Linked DNA regions of Homo sapiens: region 1 is linked to region 2. The links come from fine-mapping of genetic effects on gene expression. Tissue or cell type: esophagus muscle. Region 2 holds a variant in brackets; the other region holds the start of a gene. All regions are shown on one strand. Distances are between the middles of the regions. Region 1 holds the start of ZWINT (ZW10 interacting kinetochore protein). Region 2 has its middle 100 kb from the start of ZWINT.

What was found.
Region 1: it holds the start of ZWINT, and the variant in region 2 is fine-mapped to the expression of ZWINT in esophagus muscle (GTEx, PIP 0.97).

Annotation. Positions count from the first base shown.
Region 1 is chr10:56,360,295-56,363,134 of GRCh38, reverse strand. ZWINT (ZW10 interacting kinetochore protein) reads left to right here and starts at 1,876. Exons shown (of 9, transcript NM_007057.4): 1 at 1,876-1,939; 2 at 2,752-2,840. The coding sequence starts at 1,899. It overlaps LOC124902546 (a long non-coding RNA gene), which reads right to left and starts at 1,676. Exons shown (of 2, transcript XR_007062372.1): 1 at 1,279-1,676. RefSeq lists a silencer at 1,609-1,818 and enhancers at 1,909-2,078, 1,427-2,166, 2,792-2,840.
Region 2 is chr10:56,461,075-56,463,998 of GRCh38, reverse strand. No RefSeq gene overlaps it. Among named protein-coding and RNA genes, the nearest start is that of ZWINT, 100 kb to the right of the region's middle. The variant G/A (reference allele first, on the strand shown) is at 1,257.

The DNA.
Region 1 (2,840 bases), 100 kb after region 2:
TTAGTATATTTTCAAGGTTCATATTTTAGCATGTAGTAACCATTATTTAGCATGTAATAAAGTTCTCTTTACTACTGATTAATACTTCATTGAATGAAAGTATGCATTTTCACTCACCAGCTAATGGGCCTTTGGGTTGTTTTTACCTTTCAGCTTTTGTGAATAATGCTGCTATAGAGGTTTGTGTACTTTTGTGTCCCCATGTTTTTATTTGTCTTGGATATATAACTAGGAATGAAATTGTGACTCATATGGTAACCCTACGTTCAAAGCCTATGCACCAGTTTACATTTCCATCAACATGAGAATTCCACTTTCTTTACATCCTTAGCACCACTTACCTTTTTCATTATAGTTCTGATATCTTTTTGAAGATATGGGATATAGTTACAATAACTGTTTTAATGTCCTTGCCTGTTGATTCTAACATTACTTCAGTTCTGATCAGCAATTGATTTTTCTCCTCATTATGTGTTTTTTTTTTTCTTTTTGCAAGCTTGGTAATTTTTCTTTGTATGACATATGTAAATTGCACCTTTGGTGAACATTTTTCTATTTCTATAAATACTGCTGAAGTTTGGTCTTGTCATCTGTCATGGTTTGTTAAGTTTGATCCATTTGGGTCTTACTTTTAAGAGTTAGATGGCACTACAGCACTGATCAGCTAGGACTAATTACTGCCTACTAAATAATTAGTAAACAACTATCAAATCAAGACTTTTTTGTGTGTACTCTGTCCAGTGTCCTACGGACTATGAAGTTTTCCAGCCTGGTTAGTGGAAATAGAGACTATTTCTGACCCTCTGTAATGTCCATATATATATATTTATATATATATATATATGTATTTTTTTTTTTTTGTGAGACGGAGTCTCGCACTGTCACCAGGGCTGTAGTGCTGTGGCGCAATTTCGGCTAACTGCAACCTCAGCCTCCCTGGTTCAAGCAATTCTCCTGCCTCAGCCTCCCGAATAGCTGGGATTACAAGCGCCCACCACCACGCCCAACTAATTTTTTTTGTACTTTTAGTAGAGACGGGGGTTTCACCATGTTGGCCAGGCTGGTCTCAAACTCCTGACCTCGTAATTCACCTGCCTCAGACTCACAAAGTGCTGGGATTACAGACGTGAGCCACCGCGACCGGCCATGTCCTGGTATCTTTAAAAATCTTTTAGCTAGTTTCTTGAGACACATACTGCTCAGTACTCAGCTGAATGAATACCAAGTTCTCTCTCAGCAGTTATCTTTCTCCTGTACTCTGCAAAGAACATTACCTACCTTGGTCTCCCCAGAATATCTGTTCTATTTTGCCAACGCAGGCAATCGGCTGGGCTCTGCTTGAGTTCACTCTCCTGCATCGCATCTATAAAATACTAATATCTTTGAAAGCAGCTCGCTTTTTGAGCGCAGATCATTTGCTTCCTGTATCTCCCGGATCACTATTCTTTACTGATTCCCAGCGTCTTAGAAACAGCCCCACTGTTTTTCGGGGTTTTGTTTTTTTTTTTCTACAGCAGTAGTGAATATTTTAAATAAAGTGTCAATGCTGTAAGTTTCCCTTAAAACGCAAACTCAAGGAAATGCTTTCCCTTTTTCGAGTAGAGAAAGAACTTCCACAGGCGCGCGGTCGAGCTCAAGCCCACTTATAGTCTCTGGCACCGCGTAAGGACTAGCGCGCAGGCGCAGAGCCCGTGCGCGCCTAGCCATAACCGCGCTTGCGCCAAGCAGCGAGGCCCGCCAACGAGCGAATCCGCGCCTGCCAATTAGAGCGCACAATGGTCCTTGATGCCCGCCCACTAACCTCTGCAGCCAATCGCCTGCCCCGGCGCGAAGTCGACTGTGACTTCAAAGTAATCTTAGGGATTGTGGGAAGGCAGCTGAACTCGGCGCCTGGAAAGATGGAGGCAGCGGAGACAGAGGCGGAAGCTGCAGCCCTAGAGTAAGTGTTTGCGGCTAAGTGGCAGCTGGGGCCGGGCCTGGGAGGACCTTGTGGGCCCCTATGTGTAATGATTGGTGCCCTCGACCCTGTACAGCTGTTGAGGTTCGACCCTGCCGTGAAGTGATCCTCACCGCAGTCCCGTCTTAGGTTCCTGAGGTGTCTGTTGCCTGCTCCAGGAGTACAGCCTTTGGGGGACCGTTCGCCGCTCCCCACATCCACATAATCCACAGGATGTGCTCTAGGAGACGGTTTCACTTCTGTCTTCTTGTCCCAACACGACACATTCCCAGTCACTTCTCATCCCCATCCCTGCCCCTTCGTAGATTGCTCCAGTCCCTAATAATGAAAAACCCTAGAGTAGACCGAGGCATCCAGCCCTCTGCCCTGAGTCCTTTCTCAGCTATTCCAAGACTCTGCCCCAAGGCTGGTGCTCAGCGCCAGGAGGGATCCCAAGGCCCAGCATTCTTCCCCTTCCTTGCATATCTCCCTGGCTTCCTTCACATCTTGACTCAAATGATTTCTCTTCAGTGAGACACTCCCTATTTAAAATTTCAGCTCTTTTCTCAAACTCCTTATCCACTAGCCCTGCTGATTTTCCTTTTGGCACGTATTACCACCGTGTGCCCTCCATGCACGCCATTCCTGGTTGCAGGCTGTGGACCCTTCAGGCCCTTGTGTAAACTCTGGTCAAGGCAAGACTCTCAATACTATATATACTGATATACACATCCACATTTGTTTGTGTACACACACGAACTGTAGAACTAGCACCACAAGAAACTGCAATTTCCTGTGTTTCCTTGCCCCTCCAGGGTCCTGGCTGAGGTGGCAGGCATCTTGGAACCTGTAGGCCTGCAGGAGGAGGCAGAACTGCCAGCCAAGATCCTGGTTGAGTTTGTGG
Region 2 (2,924 bases):
CAGAACTGGAATTAAAATTCAGGCTGCTTGTCCCTAAAGTTCACTTTCTTACATGGTATGTTAACATCTCCTAATACTCCTGGAGGACTCAGACCAGGCTTCTCAAGAGGTGACATGCTAGCTAATTATAAAATGACAATCTGAAGTATAATAAAAGAAATTCTAGACATATTGGATGACACAGAACACGACACACACAAAAATTAATGTGTTTGCAGAATTGATAAATTCTTGAGAGGCTATAATAATGTAGAGATAGAAAGAGAGCTTGCAGGAAGTACAGTTCTAATCATAGCCAGGAGATCGGCTTTGGAAAAATGTGTGTCTTCCCACTCCAACCTTTCTTCTTTTTTTCAGACGGCCTTGAGCTAACGTCTGTTAAGTTGAGGGAAAAAGTAGAATAGACAACAAATAAAATAGGATGAACTTCCAGTGTCTAAACTATGTCTAAAGGAGATGTTTGGCTTGGGTTCCTGAACACAGAAATGATTAAAGCAAAATAACTAGAAGAAGCCTACTAAGACTTGAGGGGATTTTATTTATAAATAAAACAAATCCTTATCCCTAAATTCTATGATTTCATTTCTAAATCAACTCCTAGGCCCCTAAACTTATGCTAGCAGAAAATTATCTGCAGATAATTCCTTACAATCCTGTATGAACACTTTAACACCTAAATAGGTATAGCTATTCTTACATTAGACTGTGGTAGTTTCTGTTTAAAGAGTCCCCAAATGAGTAGTTAAATATGATAAATATTTATTTTTATATGTAAAATGTAGGAGAAGTCAGCTCAATGGCCATCAGAGATGTGGGTTCCTATTTTGTTGCTCTCCCATTCTCAATATGTAGTTTTATTTTGTGGCCCAATAAGGCTCCCACCTTCAAATCTGCCTTTCAGCCAAAAGGCAGTGATTAATGAAAAGTAACAACATACTCTTTTTCTTAAGTGCATATAATTTGTATATTGATATATAATTTCTAAACATATTCCATTTGTTACAACATAGTCACAGAGCCACCTTACTGTAAAGAAGGCTCAAACAGTCTTCTTTTTCTTTTTCTTTTTTTTTTTTTTTAGATGAAGTCTAACTTGTCGTCCAGGCTGGAGTGCAGTGGTGTGATCTTCGCTCACTGCAACCTCCGCCTCCTAGTTTCAAGCAATTCTCCTGCCTCAGCCTCCCGAGTAGCTGGGATTACAGTCACCTGCCACCATGCCCGGCTAATTTTTGTATTTTTAGTAGAGACCGGGTTTC[G/A]CCATGTTGGTCAGGCTGGTCTCAAACTCCTGACCTCAAGTGATCTGCCTGTCACGGCCTCCCAAAGTGCTGAGATTACAGGCGTGCCGCGTCTGGCCTCTGCCTCTTTATCTCGGAGAACATATACCCAGTGAAACACATTTTTGTGTATGGAGTGGGAGATTTTTACGTGCTGTTTAAATGATGGGATTTTATAAATATGCATGTGATCTTAAGATAATAAAAAAGAAAAATGTAAACATTAGTCTAATCGCTTTTATACAATTTTAACATGTGGTTCAGACAACAGCCAAATGAAATTAAAAGGGAGGAGAAACAAGTGTGTATTGTAAATATAAACATTTTGATAATCTGATAATAAATTGTAGTAATCAATAAAAAGAATTCCAATATGATAGCCTGACAGAATAAGGAGCATAATACTTCTCCAGACAAGAAAGACAAATAGTGAATGACATAAATAATAACAGTAATAAAGGTAATAGTGTAAAAATAGTAGAAAAGTTATTAAAATAATAACTCATCCTCTGAGAACAAAATATATACCATATGCATAGCTATGCATATCACTTACCAGCATTATTTTATAATTTTAACAAACCTATAAAGTAGATGATACTATTTTCAACACATCTAATATTGAAGTTTGTGACTAGAGTGACAAATTCAAGGTCACAGAGGTAGTATATTACCAAGCCAGGCTATAACCCCACTTTTGTGTTACTTCTGAGTTAATACCACATTTTACTCTTAAAGTGTAGGAAAAAATTACCTCATTAATAACTTGACAAATCCAAATTAATGCAATTTATAAGACTGTAAAATGGATATTACCAGTAACACATAATGCAGCTATGGGTATTATAGACCAACTACCTCAATTACATATGATTATTTTTAAATTAATATTATTAAGTTGGAAATAATTTGTCAAAATAAATCCTAAATAATTTATAGTAGCAAGTTTTTCAAAGAACCAATTATTTAACAAAAAGAAAAGATATAAGTATAGAGAGCTACTTTCTAATATAGAGAGTATTAGGAAGATAAAAGATTCAAATTATAGTTACAAACTAACCAGTAGAACAAAAATGGAAATTATATTATTTTTAAAAACAAAAAATGCCATGAAATAGATAAAATGTAATAGCATACTTAAGTGAAAAAAATACTTAAAACTACAACATAAAATATTCAAGCATAACTAGGATATAACATGCCTATAATAATAATTAATGTAAATGGGCTGTACCAATGTATCAAAATAATAAGATAGTGGTTGGGCGCAGTGGCTCACACCTGTAATCTCCGCACTTTGGGAGGCTGAGGTGGGCAGATCACTTGAGGCCAGGAGTTCGAGACCAGTCTGGCCAATATGGTAAAACCCCATCTCTGCTAAAAATTCAAAATTAGCTAGGCGTGTTGGTGCTCATTTGTAATCCCAGCTACTCAGGAGGCTGAGACATGAGAATCACTTGAACTCAGGAGGCAGAGACTGCAGTGAGCTGAGATCTTGCCATTGCACTCCAGCCTTGGTGACAGAGTGATATTCCATCTCAAAATAATAATAGTAATAATAAGAAGATATTTATGTTAAATTTCAAGGTAAAAACTGATTTTATGCTATGTACACGTATGTGCTATATAACAATGTACTTTATATATCTA